2 separate regions of the Homo sapiens genome follow, and region 2 is linked to region 1. The links come from fine-mapping of genetic effects on plasma protein levels. A gene starts in region 1. The other region holds a variant in brackets. All regions are shown on one strand. Distances are between the middles of the regions. Region 1 holds the start of BST2 (bone marrow stromal cell antigen 2). Region 2 holds the start of PLVAP (plasmalemma vesicle associated protein).

Region 1 (15,014 bases):
TCCTGTCAAAGAAAATAAAAATATGAGGACCTTCCAAAGGCAGTTTGCCAAAGGAAAAGTTGTTGTTGTTTGTATTGGTTTGTTTGTTTTTGAGACATGGTCTCATCTGTTGTCCAGGCAGGTGTGCAGTCATGCGAACATGGCTCACTGCATCCTTGATCTCTTGGGCTCAAGGGACCCTCCTACCCCTTGGGCTCAAGGGATCCTCCTACCCAGCCTCCTGAGTGGCAGATCACCTGAGGTCAGGAGTTGGAGACCAGCCTGGCCAACATGGTGAAACCCGGTCTCTACTAAAAATACAAAAATTAGCCAGGCGTGGTGGCAGGTGCCTGTAATCCCAGCTACTCAGGAGGCTGAGGCAGGAGAATTGCTTGAATGCAGAGGCTGCAGTGAGCCAAGATCACACCACTGCACTCCAGCCACCACAGGCGCAGCCACCATGTCCAGCTAATTTTTAAATGTTTTGTTGAGGTGAGGGGTGGGGGGAAACTCACTTTGTTGCTCACACTAGTCTTGATCTTCTGGGCTCGAGTGATCCTCCTGCCTAAGTGTTGGGATTACAGGCATGTACCACCGCGTCTGTACCAAAGGGAAAGTTAGGTCTGGAGACTGAGCCACACAACACTGAAGTTCCTTTCCCGAATGCATGGCTGTTGCTTCCTGATTGTGTTAAGTGGTTAAGCATTGTAGCTTACCCAGATGCCTACAAAAAGAAAAAAAAAAAAAGCCCTCACACATCTCCAGATGATCACCCTCACAAATTGTTCATACGTAAATTCTTTGCTTACTCCTAAATCTTTCCAAGATGTCCAGCCTCCCGTAAACAAAGATACGTAACCTTAGGTTTACAAGCTCTATGTGACCCCTTGTCCACGGAACCAGTCTGCTGAATTTCATCCTGACAGCACTGATTACAAGCTTACTTTCCCCGGTGCAAAACAAAGACAGGATGACATCCATCAGCCCTCCACCAGACCCTGAGACAGCTGCAAAATTAATCTTTCCTTTACTCCTTCTTCAAATGTTTATCTTAGGTATAGCTATAGTTTCAGTTTCCCTGGACACTAATTAAAGTCAGAATAATGTAACTGATGAGAAATCTCACCGCCTATTTTCTTTTTACTGTTTTCTCTGAGTTGATGGAGATACTGTTTCAGTTTCTAATTTGTGTGGACATTCCAATTGACTGGGAAGCAGCTGTTATCACACCCCCGCTATAAGAAAGCAGAGGTTGGCTGGGGGCAGTGGCTCACACCTGTAATCCCAGCACTTTGGGAGGCTGAGGCGGGTGGAACACTTGAAGCCAGGAGTTTGAGACCAGCCTGGCCAACATGGTGAAACCCCGTCTCTACTAAAAATACAAAAATTAGCCGGGCGTGGTGGCACACACCTTTGATCCCACCTACTTGGGAGGCTGAGGCAGGACAATCACTTGAACCAGGGAGACAGAGGTTGCAGAGAGCCAAGACTGCATTACTGCACTCCAGCCTGGGCAACAGAGTGAGACTCCATCTCAAAAAAGAAAGAGAGAGAGAAAGAGCAAAAGAGAGAGAAAGAAAAGCAGAGGCCCGAGGGAAAGGAGCTGGTTCGCCATGATGGAATTTGAGCCCAAGTCTGACTCCAAACCTGCACTCAGTTCTCCCCAGGGCAGGGCTTGTCACGTCTGGTGGCACCTCTGACACTTGGGGCTTGATCATTTACTGTGGGGGGCCGTCCTGTACACTGTAGTGTTGAGCAGCATCCCTGGCCTACATCCCTAGATGGCAGCGGCACTCCCAGCCCCCGCGGTGACAATAAAAATGTCCCCTGGAGCAGAATCGCCCCCACCCGCTGAGCGCCCTGGGGCCAGCGACTTCCTACAGGCATGGAGTTGTCCTCAGAAGCCCATCCGGGGCCACATCTCAGTATCCCAAAGTAAGTGAAATATGCATGTAGTGTAATAAACAGAAATGAAACAGCTGAGGGATGGTTGCGGATGATCTTTGCTCCTATTTTTTTTTTCTTAGCCAGGTGCAGTGGTTCACACCTATAATCCCAGCACCTTGGGAGGCTGAGGAAGGAGGATGACATGAGCCCAGGAGTTTGAGACCAGCCTGGGCAACATACAGAGATCCCGTCTCTACAAACAATACAAAACTTAGCTGGGCGTGATGGTGGTGAGTGGCTGTAGTCCCAGCTACTCAGGAGGCTGAGGCAGGAGGATCGCTTGAGCCCAGGAGTTTGAGAAAAGCCTGGTCAACATAGTGAGACCCCATCTCTACAAAAAAAGTAAAAAAATTAGCCAGGTGTGGTACTGAGCATCTGTGGTCCCAGCTACTCGGGAGGCTGAGGTGGGAGGATCGCTTGAGCCCAGGAGGTCAAAGGCTGCAGTGAGCTATGATCACACCACTGCACTCCAGCCTGGGCGACAGAACAAGAGCCTGTCTTTAATAAATAAATAAAAGAGGGGAAATTGGGTGTAGGGAATGTGGGAAATTCTATTATCCTCACTGTTTTTTTTCTGCAAATCTAAAACTATTCTAAAATAAAATGTTGGCCGGGCACGGTGGCTCACGCCTGTAATCCCAGAACTTTGGGAGGCTGAGGTGGGCAGATCACGAGGTCAGGAGATCGAGACCATCCTGGCCAACATGGTGAAACCCTGTCTCTACTAAAATACAAAAATTAGCTGGGCGTAGTGGCGCATGCCTGTAATCCCAGCTACTTGGGAGGCTGAGGCAGGAGAATTGCTTGAATCAGGGAGTTGGAGGTTGCAGTGAGTGGAGATCGCGCCACTGCACTCCAGCCTAGGTGACAGAGTGAGACTCTGTCTCAAAAATAAATAAATAAAATAAAATAAAATAAAATGTTTCTTTTCTTTTTTTTTTTTTTTGAGACAGAGTCTCACTCTGTCGCCCAGGCTGAAGTGCAGTGGCGCGATCTCACTGCACTGCAACCTCTGCCTCTGGGTTCAAGCGATTCTTCTGCCTCAGCCTTCTGAGTAGCTGGGATTACAGGCACCTGCCACTACGCCTGGCTAGTTTTTGTATTTTTAGTAGAGACAGGGTTTCACCATGTTGGCCAGGCTGGTCTCGAACTCCTGACGTCAGGTCATCCACCCGCCTCAGCCTCCAAAGTGCTGGGATTACAGGCATGAACCACTGCTCCCAACTGAAATGTTTCTCTAAAATAATAATAATTATATATATATATGTGTATATATATATGTGTGTATATATATATGTATATATATGTATATATATGTGTGTGTATATATATATGTGTGTGTGTATATATATATATATATATATATATATATATATGAAGCTAAAACCAAAAGAATGCTAGCGGCTGGGTGCAGTGGCTTACTCCTGTAATTCCAACACTTTGCGGGGGCTGAGGCAGGAGGATCTTTGGAGCCTAGGAGTTTGAGACCAGCCTGGGAAACATACTGAGACCCCCATCTCTACAAAAAATAAAAAATTAGCTGGGCGTGGTGGTGCACACATATAGTCCCAGCTACGCCAGAGGCTGAGGTGAGAGGATTGCTTGAGCCCAGGAGGTCAAGGCTGCAGTGAGCTATGATTGCACCACTGCGCTCCAGCCTGGGCAACAGGACAAGATTCTGTCTCAAAAGAAAATAAAAAAAGAAAAAGAATGGTAGCATAACAGTTTCCATTTCTAATTTTATTGCGAAAGTAATTGTGGTTTCTGCCATAACTTTTAGTAAGCATAATTAATTAATGCCATTAAAAGTAATGGAAGGCCGGGCGTGGTGGCTCATGGCTGTAATCGCAGTACTTTGGGAGGCCGAGATGGACGGATCATGAGGTCAGGAGTTCGAGACCAGCCTGGGTAACATGGTGAAACCCCGTCTCTACTAAAAATACAAAAATTAGCTGGGCGTGGTGGCGGGTACCTGTAATCCCAGCTACTCAGGAGACTGAGGCAGCAGGATTGCTTGAACCCAGGAGGCGGAGGTCAGAGGTTGCAGTGAGACGAGATCGTGCCAATGCACCCCAGCCTGAGAGACAGACCGAGACTCCATCTCAAAGAAAAAAACAAAAAAAGGCTGGGTGCGGTGGCTCAAGCCTGTAACCCCAGCAATTTGGGAGGCCGAGGCGGGCAGATCACCTGAGGTCGGGAGTTTGAGACCAGCCTGGCCAACATGGAGAAACCTAAACCTCTCTACTAAAAATACAAAATTAGCCGGGCATGGTGGCGCATGCCTGTAATCCCAGCTACTAGGGAGGCTGAGGCAGGAGAATTGTTTGAACCCAGGAGGCAGAGGTTGTGGTGAGCTAAGATTGCATCATTGCACTCCACCCTGGGTAACAAGAGTGAAATTCCATCTCAAAAAAAAAAAAAAAAAAAAAAAAGTAATGGCAGAGGCTGGGAGCGGTGGCTCATGCCTGTAATCCCAGCACTTTGGGAGGCCAAGTCGGGTGGATCCCTTGAGGTCGGGAGTTCGAGACCAGCCTGGCCAACATGTCGAAACCCCGTCTCTCCTAAAAATACAAAAAGTAGCTGGGCATGGTGGCAGGCATCTGTAGTCCCAGCTACTCAGGAGGCTGAGGCAGAAGAATCACTTCAACCCAGGAGGCAGAGGTTGCAGTGAGCCGAGATTACACCACTGCACTCCAGCCTGGGTGACAGAGGGAGAATATATTTAAAAATATAAAATAAAATATAGGCCGGGCACGGTGGCTCACGCTTGTAATCCCAGTACTTGGTGAGTCCAAGTTGGGTGGATCACCTGAGGTCAGAAGTTTGAGACCAGCCTGGCCAACATGGCGAAACCCCATCTCTACTAAAAATGCAAAAAGTAGCCAGGCATGGTGGCAGGCATCTGTAGTCCCAGCTACTCAGGAGGCTGAGGCAGGAGAATCGCTTCAACCCAGGAGGCAGAGGTTGTAGTGATCGAGATCGTACCACTGCACTCCAGCCTGGGCGACAGAGAGAGATTCCCTCTCAAAAAAAAAAAAAAAAAAGTAATGGCAGAAACCGCAATTACTTTTGCACCAACCAATATATAAAAATACATTATATATTTAAAAATATAAAATAAAATATAGGCCAGGTGCAGTGGCTCACGCCTGTAATCCCAGCACTTTGGGAGGCTGAGTCAGACAGATCACCTGAGGTCAGGAGTTCAAGACCAGCCTGGTCAACATGGCAAAACCCTGTCTCTACTAAAAGTACAAAAATAAGCCAGGCATGGCGGTGGGCGCCTGTAATCCCAGCTACTCAGGAGGCTGAGGCAGGGGAATCGCTTGAACTCCGGAGGCAGAGGTTGCAGTGAGCCAAGATCGTGCCACTGCACTCCAGCCTGGGCAACAAGAGCGAGACTCCATCTCAAAAAAAATTAATTAATTAATTAATTAATTAAAACAAAATAAAATAAATATATGTACTTAAAATATATATATATATTTATTTTTAAATAGGGATAGGATCTCTCTATGTTGACCAGGCTGGTCTCGAACTACTGGCCTCAAGCAATCTTCCCATCTCAGCCTCCCAAAGTACTAGGATTGCAGGCATGAGCCACTGCACCCATCCCACCATTTGTAATTGTGGGCGGCAAGCCACCCAGGTGCCAAGGCAAGAGACTGAGGACACGAGCTGTTCCAGTATAATAAAATATAAAACAAGAATAGTTATACCAAATATAGATCTTAGAGATATATGAATATCATTAATCATTAGTTTGTAGTAATTACTCTTTATCCCAATAGTATAATAATCCTCGGTCTACAATCATAACCTAGGAAAAACCAGGCCATACAGAGATAGGAGCTGAGGGGACATAGTGAGGTGTGACCAGAAGACAAGAGTGCAAGCCTTCTGTTATGCCCGGACAGGGCCAGCAGAAGGGCTCCTTGGTCTAGCGGTGACGCCAGCGTCTGGGAAGACGCCCGTTGCCCGAGCGGACAGTGGTCTAGCGGTAGCGAAAAGTGTCAAGGAACAACACCCACTACTTAGCAGACCGGGAAAGGGAGGCTCCTTTTCCCTGGGGGAGTTTGGAGAAGACTCTGCTCCTCCACCTCTTGTGGAGGGCCTGACATCAGTCAGGCTCGCCCGCGGTTATCTGGCAGCCTAACCGTCTCCCTGTGATGCTGTGCTTCAGTGGTCACGCTCCTAGTCCGCCTTCATGTTCCATCCTGTACACCTGGCTCTGCCTTCTAGATAGCAGTAGTCATTTAGTGAAAGTACTAAAAGTCTCTGATATGCAGAAATAATGGCATAAGCTGTCTTTCTGTCTGTCCCCTCTCTCTCTCTCTGCCTCGGCTGCCAGGCAGGGAAGGGCCCCCTGTCCAGTGGACACGTGACCCACGTGACCTTACCTATCATTGGAGATGACTCACACTCTTTACCCTGCCCCTTTTGCTTTGTATCCAATAAATAACAGCACAGCCAGACATTCGGGGCCACTACCAGTCTCCGCGCATTGCTGGTAGTGGTCCCCCGGGCCCAGCTGTCTTTTCTTTTATCTCTTCGTCTTGTGTCTTTATTTCTACACTCTCTCGTCGCCGCACACAGGGAGAGACCCACTGACCCTGTGGGGCTGGTCCCTACAGTAATTTTAAAGGGAAGAGCAACAAACTTTCGGTTTGCAGGGCTGGGACTGTTTACAGCTGCAAAATTTAGAGAGGACATCAATCTATTATTATCCACATTTTACAGCTGGGGAAATCAATGCTAAGAGAGGAAATTCATTTGCCCAGAGGTGCACCACCCTGGCCTCCAATGTGCAATTCATGCAATTGTGATTTCCGACCTGGTCCCAAACTAACCCTAAAGTTAGCAGGCCAGAACAGTGCTGCTCAAATAAGTCAGCTTAGTCAAATAAGTCAGGCAAAGGTCGTGTCTTTGCACCTGGAGTCCTGGCCAGGCTGGTAGGTCCCTCCTCCTGGGACAAGTTCACCCTCAGAATTTTCAGCAAGATCATCTCCCACAGCTTGTTAATTGGTTCTTGGTTCTAAGTGATTTTTTTGTTTATTGGTTTAAGAGATGGGATCCCACTCTATCACCCAGGCTTGAGTGCCGTGGCACAATCATAGCTCGCTGCAGCCTCAAACTCCTGGGCTCGAGTGATCCTCCTGCCTCAGCCTCCCAGCCTCAGCCTGGGACCACAGGCATGTACCACCATGCCTGGCTCTAAGTGGCTTTAATGGGGTCCTTCTGAGGGATGTTGGAGTCAGGGCCTGGGGGGAGTTCCCCAGGCCTTCTGGGAGGCCTGGGCTCTGGACTTGACCTCGCCTACTGTCTGGCCCTGCTGAAAAGAAAAAAAAACATGGAAATGGCAGACCTAACAGAATCTGGGCTGTGGTCAGGATGTGGCTGAAGAAGCCACAAGAAAAACATGCAGTCCCCTTTCAGCGGTCATGCCCAGCAGTTGGGTGCCGATAATGGGCCTGATTTCCTGTAGGAAGCCCTGGCTCTCTTGGCCACATGGACAGTGTCTGAGGCTGGCCCTGTTATTCCCCTTTGCAGATGAAGAAACAGGCTCAGAGAGTTTACCTGGTATCCTGGAGTCCCAGGAGCACTTTTTCTGGAAGTAGGAGCTTGTTTCCTGCAGGTGCCAAGACAGAGACCGACATTGTTTGTTGGCTGGGTCGGTCTCCCAGTTTTCAGCTGGCTCCAGTCTCACCTGTTGCTCACACACCCTCCATGTCTCCCATAGTCCCCTCGGTGGGGACAGAGGCACTGGATGAAGCCCTGCTCGTCACCACAGAGACACCTGAACACAAAAACCAGTCCCTGGGGTCAGACCCAGGCCCCGCCCCCAGACCCAGGCCCTGCCCTCACTCCACCACGCAACTGTGCAACCTCAGTTTCCCCAGGTGGAGACCGGACCAACAGTGATGGCCTCTGCCTCTTCAGGTCATAGTACAGATGAATACAGGCTGGCACGGCCTAGGCACTCAGTAACACACAGCAGAGGCACAGGGACTTAAGATGGAGTGTCCCAGGCAGCCACAGTTGGCTGGCACCCAGCTGGGAAGGGCCCAAGGGCTTTTAAAGCAGGGTGAAAAAAAAGCCCACCTCCTTTCTGGGAAACTGAAACTGAAAACCTAATTAATCCTCTGCCTGTAGGTGCCTCATGCAAGAGCTGCTGGTCAGAGCACTTCCTGGAACTTGCTATTGGTCAGGACGTTTCCTATGCTAATAAAGGGGTGGCCCGTAGAAGATTCCAGCACCCTCCCCTAACTCCAGGCCAGACTCTAAAGGGGAGATCTGGATGGCATCTACTTCGTATGACTATTGCAGAGTGCCCATGGAAGACGGGGATAAGCGCTGTAAGCTTCTGCTGGGGATAGGAATTCTGGTGCTCCTGATCATCGTGATTCTGGGGGTGCCCTTGATTATCTTCACCATCAAGGCCAACAGCGAGGCCTGCCGGGACGGCCTTCGGGCAGTGATGGAGTGTCGCAATGTCACCCATCTCCTGCAACAAGAGCTGACCGAGGCCCAGAAGGGCTTTCAGGATGTGGAGGCCCAGGCCGCCACCTGCAACCACACTGTGGTAAGCTCCTCAACTCCTTTGGATGGCCTAGTACTAGGCGGTGGGAGGGACAAGAATCTCTCCCCAGAAATCTGACCCAGGGTGGGTCTCCAGGGAGATGCAGGGGAGGTCCTGAAACTGCTCCTGGGCCCCCACATCAAGGGACCTAGGTTCCCCTACCAGGGTTTGTGGGCCCCTAACCCAGTCCAGGGCACTGGTGTAGGGGCAGGGTGTTAAAACTCTCCAGATCCCCCAAATCGGGGACCTCAGTATCCCCCTGGGACTTAGGTGAATTTATAAATTCTTTCCAGGGCACTGGTGTCGGGGGCCTTGAAACTCCTCGTGGGCACCAGTCCTGGGGGAGTAGAAATCCCTATTCAGGGTTGAAGGGGGACCTCACCAGACCCTGAAAAAGGGGGCTTTTGAAATTTTCACTTCATCCCTAAGAAACTGAAATATTCACCTGGGTCCTGATATGGGGGATCTTGAAACTCTCGCTGGGCATGTCACTTGGGCGGGGAAATCCCACTGCATTCTGGATTTGGTAGGGCCCTCTAACTTTTCTTGGGCCATTGCTCAGGCAATCTGGAAATGTCCACTAAACTTTGGTTATCGATAGCCTCCAAGTTTCCACGTGGGGTGGCCTCAAAACTCCCATTTTGAGGACCCACATGCTTATGGGTGGCCCTGGGAGAGTGTGTGGTTGTGGCTGTTCTTTAAGGTTGGAGACCATGGTGCAGAGAGGGTTGGAAGAAAACCTGAAAGGGGTTTGCATTTAAGCCCCTCTGTCCCCAGGACCTAGGGAGGAGGCCCAGGTCCCAGGGGCAGCAGCCAAACTCCCCAGGCCAAAACCCCAGATTCTAACTCTTCTTAGATGGCCCTAATGGCTTCCCTGGATGCAGAGAAGGCCCAAGGACAAAAGAAAGTGGAGGAGCTTGAGGGTGAGAAAGGGAGAAGGGAGAGGGCCGGGGAGGGGTGAGTCAGGTATGGAAGAGGGGGTGGGGGCAGGGAGACCAGGGCTGGAGGTTGGGGTAAGGGGGAGGTTCTGTCCCAGAGTGGAGCAGGGCCCCAGCATGGCCACATGCTGACCCGCCCCCTGTTTCTGTCCTCCCACCCTACCAGGAGAGATCACTACATTAAACCATAAGCTTCAGGACGCGTCTGCAGAGGTGGAGCGACTGAGGTCAGAGATAGCCTTCCCCCGCTACCCTCCACCTGCCACATTCCTCTCACCCCCACATCCCTAGCCCAAGACCCAGGATCTCCTTTGCTCCCAAAATCCCCATTGCCCCAAGGGATAAAGTTTGAGTCCCACAAAAGGATAACTTAGCCCCTAGGGTCACAGAGCCATGGGTGGCCGCTGTCCATTCCCTCCCCGGTGACTTGGATTGGGGCGGTGCGGGGGGAACTCCCGGGGGCGGTGGGCTTACAGGGAGGGCGGCAGGAGCCAGGACGAGCAGATGCCTGATTTGCCATCTGTACCGCAGAAGAGAAAACCAGGTCTTAAGCGTGAGAATCGCGGACAAGAAGTACTACCCCAGCTCCCAGGACTCCAGCTCCGCTGCGGCGCCCCAGCTGCTGATTGTGCTGCTGGGCCTCAGCGCTCTGCTGCAGTGAGATCCCAGGAAGCTGGTCAGTGAGGAGGGGGCGGCCCCGGGAGGGAGAAGAAAGCTGGGGAAGCGGGGCGGGGAAGCAGAGGCTCCGAAGTCTAGAGAGAGAGGCTGCAGGGGAAGGGACTGGGCGCAGAGGTGAGGGGCCTTGGGGAAGGAGGGAGAATCCAGTGAGAAGGATGCCCTGGATCGGGGACGGGCTGATAGCTGTATGGGGCGGGGCTATCAATGGGGGCGGGTCTATCGATGGAGGGGAGGGGCTTATGGATGGGTGGGGCGGGTCTAGCGATGGGGGCGGGGCTTGGGGCCGGGCTTGGAGCGGGGCCAGTGTCTGCTGCCTCCAGTCTGCCCTGAGTCCCTCTTCTGGTCCTTTAGGCACATCTTGGAAGGTCCGTCCTGCTCGGCTTTTCGCTTGAACATTCCCTTGATCTCATCAGTTCTGAGCGGGTCATGGGGCAACACGGTTAGCGGGGAGAGCACGGGGTAGCCGGAGAAGGGCCTCTGGAGCAGGTCTGGAGGGGCCATGGGGAAGTCCTGGGTGTGGGGACACAGTCGGGTTGACCCAGGGCTGTCTCCCTCCAGAGCCTCCCTCCGGACAATGAGTCCCCCCTCTTGTCTCCCACCCTGAGATTGGGCATGGGGTGCGGTGTGGGGGGCATGTGCTGCCTGTTGTTATGGGTTTTTTTTGCGGGGGGGGTTGCTTTTTTCTGGGGTCTTTGAGCTCCAAAAAATAAACACTTCCTTTGAGGGAGAGCACACCTGACTCTCGAGTTCCTGGAGTATCATCGTTTTAGTACCCAAGCGTTGGGGCCGCCCCTGCAGGTGAGAGTGGACACCCCGTTGACGATGACACCTCCCTTCCCTGCTCCAGGACGTTTTCAGGAGCCCACGGAGTTCGGGGAGGCACCACCCCAGTTCTTCCCAGCCCTTGTCTCTGCTGGGATCAACATAAGAACTATGCACCCTCATCAGGGCTCACCGTTTCCCAGGTGTTGTATTCTCATCTCCTCCCTAGAGCCTCTCCTGATTCCTGGGGATCCAGTGAGGAAACTGAGGCTGTAACTGAGAGTAACCTTGTCTTGCTTCCCTTCCCGCCTGCAGAAAATGCTGGGCTGGGATTTAAACTGGGATCTGTACACACACACAGGCCATGCATTGTCAGAATGTTTCCCCCTGCTTCATCCCCCAGATTCTCTCTCTCTCTCTCTTTTTTTTTTTTTTTTTTTTTTTTTTGAGACGGAGTTTCGCTCTTGTTTCCCAGGCTGGAGTGCGATGGCGCAGTCTCGGCTCACCGCAACCTCCGCCTCCCGGGTTCAAGCGATTCTCCTGCCTCAGCCTCCCAAGTAGCTGGGACTACAGGCTTGCGCCACCATGCCCGGCTAATTTTGTATTTTTAGTAAAGACGGGGTTTCTCCATGTTGGTCAGGCTAGTCTCGAACTCTCGACCCCAGGTGATCTGCCTGCCTTGGCCTCCCAAAGTGCTGGGATTACAGGCATGAGCCACCACCCCCGGCTCTTTTTTTTTTTTTTTTTTGAGACAGAGTTTTGCTCTGTCGCCCAGGCTGGAGTAGAGTGGCACGATCTTGGCTCACTGCAACTTCTGCCTTCCAGGTTCAAGTGATTCTCCTGCCTCAGCCTCCCGAGTAGCTGGGATTACAGTACTACACCACCACACCTGGCTAATTTTTGTATTTTTAGTGGAGACAGGGGTTTCATCATGTTGGCCAGGCTGGCCTCAAACTCCTGACCTCAAGGGATCTACCCACCTTGGGCTCCTAAAGTGCTGGGATTACAGGCATGAGCCATCACACCTGGCCCGATTCCCCAAACTCTTATTCATTCTGCAGTACCCAGCTCTGGGAACCCCTCCCCCAGAGAGTCTCTCTGCTTCTCCACAATTGAGGGCTGCAATCCCGACGGACCCTTCACCTACCTTATTCGATCCTCAAAGATGCCATAGTCCCTTCCTTCTCTGTTATCTTACTTCCTCCAAGTTCTCCCGGAATCCCGGCCATTGTCTCTGCAACTCCAACTCCTGTTTGTGGTAATGGAGCCAGGAGTCCCTTGTCCCAGATTTCTGTACTATCCTAAGGTCCCACAGTCCCCAGCCCAGACGGTCAGTGGGATTTAAAAAAAAAAAAAACCCTCTGGCCAGGCACAGTGGCTCACGCCTGTAATCCCAGAACTTTGGGAGGCCGAGGCAGGTGGATCACTTGAGCTCAGTTCAAGACCAACCTGGCCAACATGGTGAACCCCATCTCTACTAAAAATACAAAAAAATGGCTGGGCGTGGTGGTTCATGCCTGTAATCCCAGCACTTTGGGAGGCCAAGGTTGTTGGATCACAAGGTCAAGAGATCCAGACCATCCTGGCGAACACGGTGAAACCCTGTCTCTACTAAAAATACAAAAAATTAGCCTGGCGTGGTGGCATGCACCTGTAGTCCCAGTTACTCAGGAGGCTGAGGCACGAGAATCGCTTGAACCCGAGAGGCGGATGTTGCAGTGAGCCGAGATCCCGCCACTGCACTCCTGCCTGGGCAATAGAGCGAGACTCTGTCTCAAAATAAAAAAAATTAGCGGGGGGTGGTGGGTCGTGCCTATAGTCCCAGCTACACAGGAGGCTGAGGCAGGAAAATCGCTTGAACCCAGGAGGTGGAGGTTGCAGTGAGCTGAGATCACGCTACTGCACTCTAGCCTGGGCGACAGAGCAAGAGTCTGTCTCAAAAATAAATAAATAAATAAAACCAGGCCTCCACTTCCATGGTTCCTACTGCTGTCCCAGGGAAGGGTCCCCAAATACCTCCCCTGCCACAGACCCCCTGGCCCTCTTGCCCCCTCACTTCCCCTTGCTCACCACCTCCACCTTTACTGATCCCAAGTTCCTTTTTGCCTCAAGGCCTTTGCCCAAGCTCTGCCTGCTGCCTGGAGCACCCGTTCCTCACTCCCAAGGTCTAGGGCAGGGTCTCAGCCTCAGCAGCATTGGTGGTTTGGGCTGGATGGTTCTCTGGGTGGGGACCATCCTGTGCATTGTAGGATTTTGTTTTTTGTTTTGGGTTTTTTTTGTTTGTTTTTTTGAGATGGAGTCTCACTCTGTCTCCCAGGCTGGAGTGCAGTGGTGCGATTTCAGCTCACTGCAAACTCCGTCTCCCGGGTTCAAGTGATTATCCTGCCTCAGCCTCCCGAGTAGCTGGGATTACAGGCACCCGCCATCATGTCCGGCTAATTTTTGTATTTTTAGTAGAAACGGTGTTTCACCATGTTGTTCAGGCTGGTCTTGAACTCCTGACCTGAAGAAATCCACCCGCCTCGGCCTCCCAAAGTGCTGGAATTACAGACATGAGACACGGCGCCCAGCTGCATTGTAGGATATTAAACGGCATCCCTGGCCCCCACCCATAAATGCAAGTAACACCCTCCCAAGTTGTGACAATTAAAAATGTTTCCAGGCTGGGCATGGTGGCTCATGCCTGTAATCCCAGCACTTTGGGAGGTCGAAGGGGGAGGATTGCTTCAGCCCAGGAGGTCAAGACCAGCCTGGGCAACATAGGGAGACCTCCATCTCTACAAAAAATTTAATAATTAGCTGGGCATGGTGGCACACGCCTGTAGTCGCAGCTACTTGGGAGGCTGAGGCAGGAGGATCGCTTGAGCCTGGGATGTCAAGGCTGCAGTGAGCCAAGATGATGCAACTCCAGCCTGGGCAACAGAGCCAGACTCTGTCTCAAAAGAAAAAAAAAGTCTCTATATGTTGCTAAGTGTCCCCGGGAGCAGGGTGGGCCTTCACTTCTGTGGCCCTGGCTTGCAAAAAAGCCAAAGCCGCTTTGCAACTACTAAGCTATTTCATCCTCACCAACAGCCCCGGTGAGGCCTAGGGTAATTACTGGACTTTTTCAGGGGTTTTTGTTTTTTTTGTGGTTGGTTTGTTTGTTTTTTGAGATGGAGTCTTGCTCTGTTGCCCAGGCTGGAGTGCAATGGTGCGATCTCAGCTCATTGCAACCTCCACCTCCTGGATTCAAGTGATTCTCCTGCCTCAGCCTCCCAAGTAGCTGGGACTACAGGCGCCCACCACCACGCTGGGCTAATTTTTTTTGTATTTTTAGTAGAGACGGGGTGTCACCGTGTTAGCCAGGATGGTCTTGATCTCCTGACCTCGTGATCCGCCCGCCTCAGCCTCCCAAAGTGCTGGGATTACAGGCGTGAGCCACCATGCCTGGCCTTGTTCAGGGTTTCAAAGCTCGTTGGGCAATTAACCCTCCACATTCTGTGGATTTCCTTTTGCCCAGGAAACAAACGCTCCCCACGTGACCTCCTCCACTCACCACTCCCGACTTGGGCCATGGAAAGGTCCCCAGACTATGCTGCTGCTCCACCCACCCCCACCCCTACTCACACTCCCTCCCCCACTCTCCCCCCACAACCCCCACCCCCATCCTGCCTGGGCTGTATTTTGCTGATAAGATTAGCCCAATATTGTGGATTCAACTCCCAATCCCCCCACACAATGGCCTGGGTGTAAATTTCCCTACTTCCTAAAATGTCCCATCTTCCCTCCCTATTTTGTCCTTTTCCTGAGAGACCTGACTCCAAGGCTGTGACCCACCCAGGGGTTGAGAAGCTGACGGCTGTGGGGTTCTGCAGTCCCCAGTGGGAATTTGGCAGTGACCAGCCACTGCTGAGTGTCCCTGCTCTGGGACTCGACCTCTCTGAGCTCTGATTTCTTTCTTTTTTTTTTTTTGAGACAGGGCCTCTCTCTGTCACCCAGGCTTAAGTGCAGTGGTGCGACCTTGGATCACTGCAGCCTCAATCCCCTGGGCTCCAGCAATCCTCACACCTCAGCCTCTTGAGTAGCTGGGACCACAGGTATGCACCACCATGCCCAGCAAATTTTTTTTTTTTTTAAATAATAAAGACAGG
Region 2 (15,014 bases), 31 kb after region 1:
TCCTTCTCCACTCAAACAAACAAATGAAACCAAATCAATTGTTTTCTGTTTAGAAAAACAAAAGGGTTTAAAAAGCAAGCCTGATTTTCTGATGCCCCTCCAAGGGAATTTGAAGGGATTCATGTGCAAAATTTCCTGTGAACATGACAAATTGTTTTCAGGAAAAAACCCAACACTCACATCAGGGCTGATGCATTTGACTTCATGTAGATTCTTGATCAGGCACTCACATTCTCCCTCCAGATTTTTCTGGCCAAGGACACAAACAGAACATTTTCATAAAGTCCATGTTTGGAGATTTCAGACATCGCAGGCAAAGATGTCAATGAAAACAACCTCTTTGAAGGACAAATTGGTGACAACTATCAAAATGTAAAAATGTGCCCACTTTGAGACCCAGTAATTTCATTCATTTCTGGAAATTTGATTTTCTTTCTTTCTTTCTTTCTTTCTTTCTTTCTTTTTTTTTTTTTTTTTTTTTTTGAGACCGGGTCTCACTCTGTCACCCAGGCTGGAGTGCAGTGGTGTGATCTCGGCTCACTGCAACCTGTGCCTCCTGGATTCAAGCAATTCTCTGCCTCAGCCTCCCAAGTAGCTGGGACTACCACACCCGGCTAATTTTTGTATTTTTTGAAGAGATGGGATTTCAACATGTTGCCCAGGCTGGTCTCAAACTCCTGGACTCAAGTGATCCGCCTGCCTTGGCTTTCCAAAGTGCTTTGGATTACAGATGTGAGCCACCGCACCCAGCCAGGAAATTTGATTTTAAATCTTCTTTTATTTATTGAAAAACTAACTCAGAAAAAATCTAAGTGTCCATTCATAATTTTATGGTACTGTATCTGGTGAAAACCTAAACAGCCAGCCATAGGAGTCAATGAATCTCAAAGACATAATACTGTGCAAAAAGAGGAAGGTCTATCTTTACCTTTTTTTTTTTTTTTTTTTTTGAGATGGAGTCTCACTCTGTAGCCCAGGCTAGAGTGCAGTGGCACGATCTGGGCTCACTGCAACCTCCACCTCCCAGGTTCAAGCAATTCTTCTGCCTCAGCCTCCCGTGTAGCTGGGAGTACTGGCATCCGCCACCATATCTAGCTAATTTTTGTATTTTTAGTAGAGATGGGGTTTCACCATATTGGCCAGGCTGGTCTCGAACTCCTGACCTCGTGATCTACCCGCCTCGACCTCCCAAAGTGCTGGGATTACAGGTGTGAGCCACGACCCCCAGCCTACCCTTTTTGCTAAAAAAAAAAAAAAAAAAAAAAAAAAAAAAAAAAAAAAAAAAATCAGGCCTGGCGTGGTGGCTCACGCCTGTAATCCCAGCAATTTGGGAGGATGAGGTGGGTGGATCACCTGTGGTCAGGAGTTCGACACCAGCCTGGCCAACATGGCGAAAGCCCATCTGTACTAAAAAATACCAAAAAAAAAAAAAAAATTAGCTAGGCATGGTGGTGTGCACCTGTAATCCCAGCTACTCAGGAGGCTGAGGCAGGAGAATCACTTGAACCCAGAGGTGGAGGTTGCAGTGAGCCAAGATCATGCCATTGCATGCCAGCCTGGACGACAAGAGAAAACTCTGCCTCAAAACAAACAAACAAAAAGTTACAAAGTTAAATCAGCTAATATAACAAATGATCCAAAACAGAAACATTACAAATTAAAGGTGTGAGATCAAATTAGAAAAGGACACCAAATATTGTTTTTGGGCTTGATACAAATAACATTGGTATGTATATTTAAAACTCTGCTTCTCACATGGTGACAACTGTTCAAAATTGTGGCACATCAGTACCATCAGGTCCGGGGGGCTTTTTGTTTTCTGGGAGTTTGAGGTTGCCTTTATTTTTCCTTGTCAACTGGTATCACATTCATACATACATAGATGCAACATCTTCTATATACAATGAAGAACAGCCAAGATCTTAAGTGTACACCAAGACCCACATCTACTGGCATTGGCCCAGACACTGCACCCAGCCTCAGCTCCTCTGCTGGACCCTGGTCACCCACACTTCATCCCCATCATGCTCTCCTTTCCCCAGTGCTCTCACAGGCCTGGGGCACCGGCAGCTGGGAATACTGCCCCTCCCCTATGTCTGAGTTCCTCAGCCTGACATCAGAGGCCAGGCATGATCCAGCCCTCACATCTTAAAAAATGCCATCATTGCCCGGTGCGGTGGTTCATTCTGTAATCTCAGCACTTTGGGAGTCCAAGGCAGGTGGATCACCTGAGGTCAGGAGTTTGTGACCAGCCTGGTCAACATGGTGGAACCCCGTCTCTACTAAAAATACAAAAATTAGCTGAGCAGTAGTGCTGCACATCTGTAATCCCAGCTACTTGGGAGGCTGAGGCAGGAGAATTGCTTGAACTCTGGAGGCAGAGGTTGCAGTGAGCCGAGATCGCACCACTGCACTCCATCCTGAGCAATAGAGCAAGACTCTGTCTCAAAAAAAAAAGGCCATCATTTATTAAGACTGAGTATGTTCCAGGCATGACGTCAAGTACTTCAAAACTGGCTATGTTGTTGGCCAGGTGAGGTAGCTCACGCCTGTAATCCGAGCACTTTGGGAGGCCGACGCAGGCGGATCACGAGGTCAGGAGTTTGAGACCAGCCTGGTGAAACCCTGTCTCTACTAAAAATACAAAAAATTAGCCAGGCATGCTGGCGCGTGCCTGTAGTCCCAGCTACTCAGGAGGCTGAGGCAGGAGAATCCCTTGAACCCAGGAGGCAGAGGCTGTGGTGAGCCAAGATAGTGCCACTGCACTCCAGCCTGGGGAACAGTGCCAGACTCCATCTCAAAAAAAAAAAAAAAAAACAAAAAAAAAAAACAAAAAAAACTGGCTATGTTGTCTTCACTTGATTTTTGTTTTGTTTTTGTTTTTTGGGTTTTTTTTTTTTTAGAACAGGGTCTTGAACTTGTGGGCTCCAACGATTCTCCCACCTCTGCCTCCCTAACTGCTGGGATTACAGGTGTGAGCCACTGCACCTGGCTATCTCCACTTCGGACAGGAGAAAACTGAGGCCCAGGGAGGGAAAGTCACTTCTCCAAGGCCACAAAGCTGGTAGGTGGCACAGTCAGAACTCAACTCCAGAACTCTAAACTGTAATGCTGGGTTCACTCAGACTACATTGCCCCCATTACGGAGGATGTTCTCCTCCTGCCCAGCTCTGGGGGGCTCTGGGTGGGTCTGGCCAACCCAGAGAAATGGCTGGTTGGGCACCCGTGGCAGCCCCCAGCCCTCCTTCCCCCACTAGCAGCCGCCGACGACGCCGCTGGGAAGGGTCCGGAATCAGGATCAGGAACCACCGGGTAGCTGCAAAGGTCAAAGGTCAGACATGGGTTTCCTGCCCACCCCTGGGAACTTCCTTCTTCTCAACTCTACACTCGCCTCACTGAGCACCACCCTGGAGTACCCCTCCGCTCTGTCAACGACCCCTCCCCACTCTGTTACCCTGGCTAATGGGGGGACGGGTCCCCACGCCCCAGCCTTCACATTGCCCTACAGAGGACAGCAATTGCATGATTGTCACCTGTCCGGAGTCCAGCCTCCTTTCCGGCTCCCTGCTCCTGTTCCTCCAGCCCACCCTGACTCCACAGGGTGGGGGGTACCTGTCCCAGTCTGTCTCCCAAGACTGGGAGTTGCTTGTGGCTGAGGTTGGGACTGACACCTCTTGGGGGGCCCTGGCATCACCCAGCATGGAGCAAACAAAGAAGGGACTCCAGGGAGGGTTTCCCTGGAGCTCCTGATCCTGGGAGATAGGCAGGACACACAGAATCCTTTGCTTCCGGGTCCCCAAATCCCCTCCAGGCCCAACTGGGGGGTGACCCACAGCGACCCCAGAAAACTCCCGTGGTTTTTTTGGTTTGTTTGTTTTTGTTTTTGAGACAGAGTTTCTCTCTTATCTCCCAGGATGGAGTGCAGTGGCCCGATCTCGCTTCACTGCAACCTCCGCCTCCCGGGTTCAAGTGGTTCTCCTGCCTCAGCTTCCCAAGCAGCTGGGATTACAGGTGCTCGCCACCACACACGGCTAATTTTTGTATTTTTAGTGGAGATGGGGTTTCACCATATTGGCCAGGCTGGTCTCGCACTCCTGACCTCAGGTGATCCGCCTGCCTCAGCCTCACAAAGTGCTGAGATTACAGGTGTGAGCCACTATGCCCGGCCGCCCATGGGGTTTTGAGTGTCGGGGGAGGAATCTCAGTCCCACGTATCCACCACTTGTCATTCACCATCTCACGGAGCCCCCAGCAGTGCCTCCAGCAGGAAATGATCCTAATCATAACAACAGCCACAGAGTGACGAGGCACTGGGTATACCCCGTCTCACAAAGGGGAAAAGGGAGGCACAGACATGCGAGGCCTCTTGCCCGAGCTCTCCCGGGACAAAGCCAGCTCTTCCCCGCTCCAAGTTCATTATTCCTTGTGCTGCAGTTTCCTGGAGCATTTACTGAGCATCTAAGTGAACAGGGCACTGGGGGCAATGACAGAGCTTGGGGAGCCAGCGCCACCGCCATCCATGGCTCAGCCCTCCGTGACGCCCTCCTATGCAATTACTAATCACCTACTGCTTCTCCATCCCTAGGCTAGCTAAGAGTTTCACACTTTTTCTGTTTTTTTTTTTTTTTGAAACAGAGTCTTGCTCTATACCCCAGGCTGGAGTGCAATGGCACGATCTCTGCTCACCGCAACCTCCGACTCCTGGGTTCAAGCGATTCTCCTGCCTCAGCCTCCTGGGTAGCTGGAATTACAGGCGAGCACCACCACACCTGGCTAAGTTTTGTATTTTTAGTAGAGACGGGGGGTTTCACCACGGTGACCGGGTTGGTCTCAAACTTCTGACCTCAGGTGATCCGTCCGCCTCAGCCTCCCAAAGTGCTGGGATTATAGGCGTGAGCCACCGTGCCTGGCACATTTCCCACGTTTTGTGGCACTTAATCAGCACCGCCCTGGTGAAGTGGGTGCACGTCTGTAGCCAGCCTGTCTTGAGGTAAGTCAAGTTCGCTGAACTAACAGCGTGAGACCCCGAGGCAACCCCTTCTCCTCCCTGTGCCTCAGTTTCCTCCGCCACACAAGGGAGACAGCAACAGACCTGGCATGATTCAGCGACCTAATCACAGCAGGTACTGAGAACAGCACCCGCCAGCAAGTAAAGGCGAACGCGAGGCTCGAAGAGGCCAGGAATGCCTGACCAGCCAGCCAGCGCCCCACCCAGCATTAATCAGAGGGGTCCAGCCGGTGCCCTGGCTCTGGGCCCCCAGCCCCACCCCCGCCTTCTCACAGCCAGAGTGGGAGTGTTGTGATAACCCGCAGCCCCCGTTTCCTCCGGGCCAGGAAGGAGCCAGGCAGAGGAAGTATTAAGAGGAGTAATATAAGCACTCCCCCCTGCGAGGCGGGGGCCAGAGCAGGCCTGGTGGTGAGCAGGGACGGTGCACCGGACGGCGGGATCGAGCAAATGGGTCTGGCCATGGAGCACGGAGGGTCCTACGCTCGGGCGGGGGGCAGCTCTCGGGGCTGCTGGTATTACCTGCGCTACTTCTTCCTCTTCGTCTCCCTCATCCAATTCCTCATCATCCTGGGGCTCGTGCTCTTCATGGTCTATGGCAACGTGCACGTGAGCACAGAGTCCAACCTGCAGGCCACCGAGCGCCGAGCCGAGGGCCTATACAGTCAGCTCCTAGGGCTCACGGCCTCCCAGTCCAACTTGACCAAGGAGCTCAACTTCACCACCCGCGCCAAGGATGCCATCATGCAGATGTGGCTGAATGCTCGCCGCGACCTGGACCGCATCAATGCCAGCTTCCGCCAGTGCCAGGGTGACCGGGTAAGGCTGTGGGCAGGACACTCGCCCTGGGGACCCTGAGCAAGCCCCCTCACCTCTCTGAGCCTGAGTTTCCTCATCCAAGAGAGGGGGACGATCACAGGACCAATGCTCTCTTTTCTTATGAGACAGAGTCTCGCTCCGTCTCCCAGGCTGGAGTGCAGTGGTGCAATCTCGGCTCACTGCAACCTCTGCCTCCTGGGTTGGAGTGATTCTCCTGCCTCAGCCTCCCGAGTAGCTGGGATTACAGGCATGTGCCATCATAACCGGCTCATTTTTGTATTTTTAGTAGAGATGGGGTTTCACCATGTTGGCCAGGCTGGTCTCAAACTCCTGACCTCAAGTGATACGCCTGCCTTGGCCTCCCAAATTGTTGGGATTACAAGCGTGAGCCACTGCACCCGGCCGATAGATTTTTTTTTTTTCCTTAAGAGACAGGGTCTCCATGTGTATCCTGGGCTGGATGGAGTGCAATTGCTATCACAGCTCACTGCAACCTCAATCTCCTGGACTCAAGTGATCCTCTTGCCTCAGCCTCCTGAGTAGCTGGGACTACAGGCGTGCACCACCACACCCAGCTAATATGTTTATATTTAGCAGAGATGAGGTCTCACTATGTTGCCCAGGCTAGTCTCGAACTCCTGGGCTCAAGCAATCCTCTCACCCCAGCCTCCCAAACTGCTGGGATTACAGGTGTGGGGCACTGCGTCCAGCTAAATTTTTTTTATTTCTTTTCTTTTTTTTGGAGGCAGGGTCTCACTCTGTCACCCAGGCTGGAGCACAGTGATGTGAGCATAGCTCACTGAAGCCTTGACATCCTGGGCTCCAGCAAT[C/T]CTCCTGCCTCAGCCTTTTGAGTAGCTGGCACTATGGACATGCCACTATGCCCAGGTCATTTTTTATTTTTAGTAGACGTGGGGTCTCGCTATGTTGATCAGGCTGGTCTTGAACTCCTGGGCTCAAACAATCCTCCCTCCTGGACCTCCCAAAGTGCTGAGATTACAGGTGGGCACCACCACACCTGGCAATTTTTTTTTTTTTTTTTGAGACGGAGTCTCGCTCTGTCACCCAGGCTGAAGTGCAGTGGCACAATCTCGCCTCACTGCAACCTCCACCTCCCAGGTTCAAGTGATTCTCCTGCCTCAGCCTCCTGAGTAGCTGGGATTACAGGCGTGTGCAACCATGCCAGCTAATTTTTGTATTTTTAGTAGAGACGGGGTTTCACCATGTTTGCCAGGCTGGTCTCAAACTCCTGACCTCAAGTGAGCCACCCACCTCGGCCTCCCATAGTGCTGGGATTACAGGCATGAGCCACCGTGCCCTGACCTGGTGCCCTGGCTAACTTTTTTTTAGAGACAGAATCTCACTATGCTGCTGAGGCTGGTCTTGAACTCCTAGGCTCACCCTCCTAAAGTGCTGAGATTACAGGCATGAGCCACCATTCCCAGCCAGCAACATTTTTTTTAAACTGTAAGTATATTCCATGCAATATTTGAGATATAATTTTGAAAATAATATTCATTGTCTTTTTGGAATCCAAGTTTAATTCTCCTCCTGTGTGTTAATTGGCAGTCCTGAGCCCATAACTTACTATGCATGAAGCTCCCAGAATGTGCCAGCACTAATCAAAGGGGTCCAGCACACACAAGCTGCAAATAAGTGGCTGAAGACCGGCTACAGTAGCTCACACCTGTAATCCCAGCACTTTGGGAGACCGAGGCAGGAGGACCACCTGAGTCCAGGAATTTGAGACCAACCTGGGCAACATGGTGAAACCCTGTCTGTACAAAAAGTACAAAAATTAGGCCAGGCATACTGGCTAACACCTGTAATCCCAGCACTGTGAGAGGCCAAGGTGGGTGGATCACTTGAGGTCAGAAATTTGAGACCAGCCTGGCCAACCTAGTGAAACCCCGTCTGTACTAAAAATACAAAAATTATTAGCCGGGTATGGTGGTATGTGCCTGTAGTCCCAGCTACTCGGGAGGCTGAGGCAGGAGAATCACTTGAACCTGGGAGGCAGAGATTGCAGTGAGCCGAGATCTCACTACTGCACTCCAGCCTGGGCAACAGAGGGAGACTCTGTCTAAAAATAAATACATACATACATACATACATACATACATACAAAAATTAGTCAGGCATGGTGGCACATGCCAGTAGTCCCAGCTACTTGGGAGGCTGAGGTGGGAGGATCACTTGAGCCCAGGAGGTCAAGGCTGCAGTGAGCCAAGATAGTGCCACTGTACTCCAGCCTGGGCGACTGAGTGAGACCCTGAATGGAAAAAAAAAAACAAAAAAAGGATGGACTGAATAAAAGTTCACAGTGTTTTGTTCCTGTTCAATTCTAGCATGTATAAACAGTCCATATTTGCTGTATGCTGGGTGTTGAATTTAGAAATATTAACTCATTGCCAAATCCCGGGAAGTAGGGAGAAGCTTTTGTTGTTTTGTTTTGTTTGAGATGGAGTCTCACTCTTTCACCCAGGCTGGAGTGCAGTGGCGCAGTCTCGGCTCACTGCAAGCCCCACCTTCTGCGTTCATACCATTCTCCTGCCTCAACCTCCTGAGTAGCTGGGACTACAGGCGCCCGCCGTCATGCCTGGCTAATTTTTCTATTTTTAGTAGAGACCGGGTTTCACTGTGTTAGCCAGGATGGTCTGGATCTCCTGACCCTGTGATCCACCCGCCTCGGCCTCCCAAAGTGCTGGGATTACAGGCGTGAGCCACCGTTCCCGGCTGTTTTGTTTTATTTTGTTTTGTTTGAGACAGGGTCTCCCTCTGTTGCCAAGGCTGGAGTGCAGTGGAAGGTCTCGGCTCACTGCAACCACTGCCTCCCAGGCTCAAGCGATTCTGTTGCCTCAGCCTCCCGAGTAGCTGGGATTGCAGGTGCGCCCCACCATGCCCGGCTAAGTTTTGTATTTTTAGTAGAGATGGGGTTTCACCATGTTGGCCAGGCTGGTCTCAAACTCCTGCCTTCAAGTGATCCACCTGCCTTGGCCTCCCAAAGTGTTGAGATTACAGGAGTGAGCCATTGCGCCTGGGCAGCAGAAGTTTTAAACCCTTTGCAGGCAGGAAAGTGAAGGCATGAGAGGGGAGGTGACTTTCTTGAGGTGGCAGAAACAGGCGGGCTCTCTGGGCAAAGTCACAGCTGCAAATCTGGGGTCTCCTGGAGACCATCGCGCCACTCTCGCACCCCGGCTTGTGTCAAACTCACTAGACAATTATCCCCGTGTTCTCAGACACAACTTCATCCAGGGGGTGTCCCGCCTGCCCTGAGACATTGTGGGGAGCAGGTGTGGGGCTCTCTCCTTAAGGGTGAGGTGGGTGAGAGATGGGAGGGTGGGGTGAGGGAAGGCTGAAGAGGCAGCTTCAGGGTCTTCCAAGGAGGTGACCTGGCTGGCCAGGGCCCAGGCAGTGGCAAAGACAGACCTCCCATAGGACCTCAGACCACCCAGCCGTCCGCACTGGGCAGGAAGGTAAGCTCAGCCCCCTCAGTCCTGCTCAAGGCAGAACTCAGTCTCCTCACCTCAGACCCCTAATGGCGGGGCCCTACCTCCACCTCAACCCCTCGCCCAGAGCCCCAGGGGTAGGGCCCTGTCTCTATCCGCCAAAACCCCGGGGCAAAGCACCGTCTCCCCAGATGCCCAGAGTATGGTAGGTCTCACCTCAGCCCCCCAAGATGGGGTGGAACACCCCTCAGTCCCCAGGGCATAACTGTGCCCCTCCCTCAGACCCTCCCAATAGGGTCCTGCCTGCCCCTTAGATCCTCAGATTAGAGCCCTGCCTCCCCTCTCAGACCTGAACCTGGCTAACTGGTGTCTTTTCTTTCTTTTTTTTTTTTTTTTTTTTTTTTTTTTGAGACAGAGTCTAGCTCTGTCGCCAAGGCTGGGGTGCAATGGCGCGGTATCCACTCACTGCAACCTCTGCCTCCTGGGTTCAAGCAATTCCCCTGCCTTAGCCTCCCGAGTAGCTGGGTCTACAGGTGCCCGCCAACATGCCCTGCTAATTTTTTTTTTGTATTTTTAGTAGAGACGGGGTTTCACTATGTTAACCAGGATGGCCTCAATTTCCTGACCTCGTGATCCGCCCGCCTTGGCCTCCCAGTGCTGGGATTACAGGTGTGAGCCACTGCACCTGGCCTGTCTTTTCATTTAAAAAAAAATTATTGGCCGGGTGCAGTGGCTCACACCTATAATCCCAACACTTCGGGAGGCCGAGGTGGGTGGATCACTAGGTCAGGAGATCGAGACCATGCTGGCTAACACAGTGAAACCCCGTCTCTACTAAAAATACGAAAAATTAGCCAGGTGTGGTGGTGGGCGCCTGTAGTCCCAGCTACTCGGGAGGCTGAGGCAGGAGAATGGCATGAACCCGGGAGGCGGAGCTTGCAGTGAGCCGAGATTGCGCCACTGCACTCCAGCCTGGGCGACAGAGCGAGACTCCGTCTCAAAAAATAAATAAATAAATAAATAAAAACATTATTTAATTATTTTATTATTATTATTACTATTTTTGACACAGAGTTTCACTCTGTCGCCCAGGCTGGATTGCAGTGGCGCAATCTCAGCTCCCTACAACCTCTGCCTCCCGGGTTCAAGTGATTCTCCTACCTCAGCCTCCCGAGTAGCTGGGATTACAGGCACCCGCCACCAAACCCAGCTAATTTTTTGTATTTTTAGTAGAGATGGGGTTTCCCCATGTTGGCCAGGCTGGTCTGGAACTCCTGATCTCAGGTGATCCACCTGCCTCAGCCTCCCAAGACACCTCTTCTCTATAAAAAATAAACTAAAAATTAAAAAAGAAACTTAAAAATCACATCCTTTTTTTTTTTTTTTTTTTTTAGAGACATGGTGTCACTACATTGCCGAGGCTGGTCTCGAACTCCCAGCCTCAAGCAGTGTTCCCACCTCAGCCTCCTAATGACTAAGGCTTTTGAGAACAGAAGGCATTCCCCATGTCCCCCCAGGACATTCACCCAGGGCCAACTGCAAAAGGATGAAGGACAGAGAGTTGCAGAAAGACAAACTCTCCTGATTCTTCATGTCTTATTATATTTCTGCAGAGGGTTCTCTTCCAAAGTTTGAAAGGCATGGCTTTAGTTTGTTAAATTGTGAACACTTTCTTTAAAAACAGCTTTGCTGGCCAGGCGTGGTGGTTCACACCTGTAATCCCAACATTTTGGGAGGCCAAGGTGGGTGGATTGCTTGAGCTCAGCAGTTTAAGACCAGCCTGGGCAACATGGTGAGACCCCATCTCTATAAAAAATTAGCCAGGAGTGGTGGCACGTGCCTGTAATCCCAGCTACTTGAGAGACTGAGGTGGGAGGATTGCCCGAGCCTGGGGAGGCTGAGGCTGCAGTGAGCTGTGATCACACCACCACACTCCAGCCTGGGTGGCAGAGTGAGACCATGTCTCAAAAAAAATAAAATTAAATTAAAATAAAAATAGCTGGCCGGGCGTGGCAGCTCACGTCTGTAATTCCAGCACTTTGGGAAGTCAAGGCAGGAGACTGAGGCCAGTGGATCACTTGAGGTCAGGAGTTCGAAACCACCTGGCTAACATGGTGCAACCCCGTCTCTACTAAAATACAAAAATTAGCTGGTCATGGTGGTGCACCCCTGTATTCCCAGCTACTTGGGAGGCTGAGGCATGAGAATCACTTGAACCCAGGAAGTAGAGGTTGCAGTGAGCTGAGATCACACCGCTGCACTCTAGCCTGGGCCACAGAGCGAGACTCCATCTCAATAATAATAATAATAATAAATAATTTTTAAAAACAGCTTTATTGATATATAATTCATGTATTTTACAATCCACCTATTTAAAGTGTACAATTTGATGTTTTTGTTTGTTTGTTTGTTTGTTTTGAGATGGAGTCTCGCTCTGTCGCCCAGGCTGGAGTGCAGTGGCGCGATCTCAGCTCATTGCAAGCTCTGCCTCCCAGGTTCACGCCATTCTCCTGCCTCAGCCTCCCGAGTAGCTGGGACTACAGGCGCCCGCCACCACGCCTGGCTAATTTTTTGTATTTTTAGTAGAGATGGGGTTTCACCGTGTTAGCCAGGATGGTCTAGATCTCCTGACCTCGTGATCCGCCCGCCTCGGCCTCCCAAAGTGCTGAGATTACAGGCGTGAGCCACCGCGCCCAGCCAATTTGATGATTTTTTTGTAAATTCACAGAGTTGTACATTGATCACCACGATCCATTTTAGAACATTATTTTAGAACATTTTCACCTTCCCAAAAGAAAACCCACGTCCCCATCAGCAGTCACTTCCCATTCCCCTCCCCCAATCCCTGACAGCCACCAACCTGCTTCCTGTCTCTATGGATTTGCCTGTTCTGGGCATTTCATGTCAGTGGAATCTCACATTCTGTGGCCTTTTGTGTCCGGCTTCTCTCACTTAGGCATCATGTTTTTGGGGTTCACACACACTGCAACATGGATCAGTGCTTCCTTCCTTTTTATGGCTGAATCATGTTCTATGTATGGAAGGAACACATTTTGTGCGTTAATTCATCTGCTGACAGGCATTTGGGTTCTTTCCACCTTTGGCTACTGTGAATCGAGCGGCTGTGGACATTCCTGGCAAGTTGATGTGAGGATGTGTTTCCATTGCTCTGGGTATATGCTGAGAAGTAGAGTTTCTGGGTCACGTGGTAACTATGTTTAACATTTTGAGGAACTGCCAGACTTTCCCAAAGCCGTTGCAACATTGTACATTCTCACTAGTACTGTCTGAGAATTCTGATTTCCCCACATCCTCATCAACACCTGTTACTGTTCATTTTGGGGGTTTATGGGTTTTTAAAATAGCCACCCTCGTGGGTGTGTAGTGGTATCTCACTGTGGTCCTGATTTGCATTTCCGTAATGGCTAATGATTTTGAATATCTTTCTTTTTTTTTTTTTTTTTTTTTTTTTAGACAGACTCTCGCTCTGTCACCCAGGCTGGAGTGCAATGGTGTGATCGTGGCTCACTGCAACCTCCATCTCCCGGGTTCAAGCAATTCTTCTGCCTCAGCCTCCCAAGTAGCTGGGATTACAGGCACCTGCCACCAGGCCTGGCTAATTTTTTTGTATTTTTAGTAGAGATGGGGTTTCACCATGTTGGCCAGGCTGGTCTCGAATGCCCAACCTCAGGTGATCCACCTGTCTTGGCCTCCCAAAGTGCTGGGATTATAGGTGTGAGCCACCGCGCCCAGCCGATTTTGAATGTCTTTTGATATGCTCTTTGGCCATTTGCATATCTTATTTAATTTAATTTTAATTTTTCTTTTTTTTTTTTTTGGACATAGAGTCTCACTCTGTTCCCCAGGTTGGAGTGTGGTGGCACAATCTCATCTCACTGCAACCTCCGCCTCCCGGATTCAAGCGAGTCTCCTGGCTCAGACTCCCAAATAGCTGGGACTACAAGCATGCGCTTCCATGCCTGGCTAATTTTTGTATTTTTAGCAAAGATGGGGTTTCGCCATGTTGGCCAGGCTGGTGGTGGGCAGATCACTTGAGGTTAGGAGTTCGAGACCAGCCTGGCCAACATGGCGAAACCCTGTCTCTACTAAAAATACAAAAATTAGCCAGGTATGGTGGTGCACACCTGTAATCCCAGCTACTCGAGAGGCTGAGGCTGGGGAATCACTTGAACCCGGGAGACGGAGGTTACAGTGAGCCGAGATCGTGCCACTGCACTCCAGGCTGGGTGACAGAGCAAAAAACCCTGTCTCAAAAACAACAACAAAAAAAAAAACAAAAAAAGGTTTTTTTTAAAGACTGTTGTTTGCCTCATGAGATGGTGTTAGCATTTGTATTAATTTGCTAGGGCTTCCATGACAAGGTATTACAGACTGGGTGGTACCAAGATCAAAGTGTTAGCGGGGTTGGTTCCTTCTGAGGCTGTGAGGGAAGGATCTGTTCCAGGTTTTTGTTTGTTTGTTTGTTTTTTTGAGACGGAGTCTCGCTCTGTCACCCAGGCTGGACTGGAGTGCAGAGACGCGATCTCGGCTCACTGCAACCTCCGCCTCCCCGAGTTCAAGCAATTCTCTGCCTCAGCCTCCCCAGTAGCTGAGATTACGGGTGCCCACCAACATGCCCTGCTAATTTTTTTGTATTTTTAGTAGAGATGGGATTTCACCATCTTGGCCAGGTTGCTCTTGAACTCTTGACCTCGTGATCCACCCGCCTTGGCCTCCCAGAGTGCTGGGATTACAGGCGTGAGCCACCATAGCCGGCCTGTTCCAGGTCTTTCTACTTGGCTTGCAGGTGGCATCTTCTTCCTGTGTCTGCTCTTGGTCTTCCTTCTGTCCGTGTCTCTGTGTCCAAATCTCTTCTCTTTATAAGGACATCAGTCATGTTGGATTAGGACCCACCCTAAGGACCTCACCTTAACTTAATTACCTCTCTAAAGACCCTACTTCTGCCAGGAGAGGTGGCTCACGACTATAATCCCAGCACTTTGGGAGGCCGAGGGGGGCGAATCACCTGAGGTCAGGAGTTTGAAACCAGCCTGGCCAACATGGTGAAACCCTGTCTCTACTAAAAATACAAAAATTAGTTCGGCCGAGTGCGGTGGCTCACACCTGTAATCCTAGCACTTTAGGAGGCCGAGGTGGGCGGATCACCTGAGGATGGGAGTTTGAGACCAGCCTGGCCAACATGGAGAAACCCTGTCTCTACTAAAAAATACAATATTAGCCAAGCATGGTGGTGCGTGCCTGTAATCCCAGCTACTAGGGAGACTGAGGCAGGAGAATCACTTGAACTCGGGAGGTGGAGGTTGCAGTGAGCCGAGATCATGCCATTGCACTCCAGCCTGGGCAAAAAGAGCGAAACTCCGTCTCAAAAAAAAAAAAAAAAAAAAAAAATTAGCCGGGCAGGGTGGTGGGCCCCTGTAATCCCAACTACTCGGGAGGCTGAGGCAGGAGAATCACTTGAACCCGGGAGGCAGAGGTTGCAGTGAGCTGAGATCGAGCCATTGTACTCCAGCCTGGGTGATAGAGCGAGACTCTGTGTAAAAAAACAAAAAACAAAAACAAAAAAACCCTACTTCTAAATACAGTCACATTCTCAGGTACTGGGGATACAGTTGAGCTCATAGCAGCATCCTTGTCCAAATCAGTTGACCATAGCCAGGCATGGTGGTGCACACCTGTAATCCCAGCAATTTGGGAGGCTGATGGGGGAGATCGTCACCACCCTG

What was found. PIP is the posterior inclusion probability: the model's chance that the variant is causal. Protein levels are from antibody-based Olink assays in UK Biobank. Linkage for the fine-mapping came from a reference panel and not from the study's own genotypes, which makes the PIPs less certain.
Region 2: its variant is fine-mapped to the plasma level of the BST2 protein (UK Biobank, PIP above 0.99).

Annotation. Positions count from the first base shown.
Region 1 is chr19:17,398,786-17,413,799 of GRCh38, reverse strand. BST2 (bone marrow stromal cell antigen 2) reads left to right here and starts at 8,170. Exons shown (of 5, transcript NM_004335.4): 1 at 8,170-8,509; 2 at 9,363-9,429; 3 at 9,611-9,671; 4 at 9,976-10,120; 5 at 10,474-10,861. The coding sequence starts at 8,225. The coding sequence ends at 10,105. It overlaps BISPR (BST2 interferon stimulated positive regulator), which reads right to left and starts at 8,114. Exons shown (of 4, transcript NR_130766.1): 1 at 8,029-8,114; 2 at 7,504-7,723; 3 at 495-703. It also overlaps a transcript of MVB12A not described here. RefSeq lists enhancers at 5,932-6,458, 7,159-7,208, 7,409-7,458, 7,509-7,568, 7,759-8,138 and 2 more, a silencer at 10,515-10,683 and a cis regulatory region at 14,260-14,824.
Region 2 is chr19:17,367,730-17,382,743 of GRCh38, reverse strand. It overlaps PLVAP (plasmalemma vesicle associated protein), which reads left to right and starts at 5,402. Exons shown (of 6, transcript NM_031310.3): 1 at 5,402-5,824. The coding sequence starts at 5,456. LOC105372298 (a long non-coding RNA gene) reads left to right here and starts at 2,972. Exons shown (of 3, transcript XR_936362.3): 1 at 2,972-3,064; 2 at 3,258-3,331; 3 at 3,914-3,954. RefSeq lists an enhancer at 2,696-3,584. The variant C/T (reference allele first, on the strand shown) is at 6,655.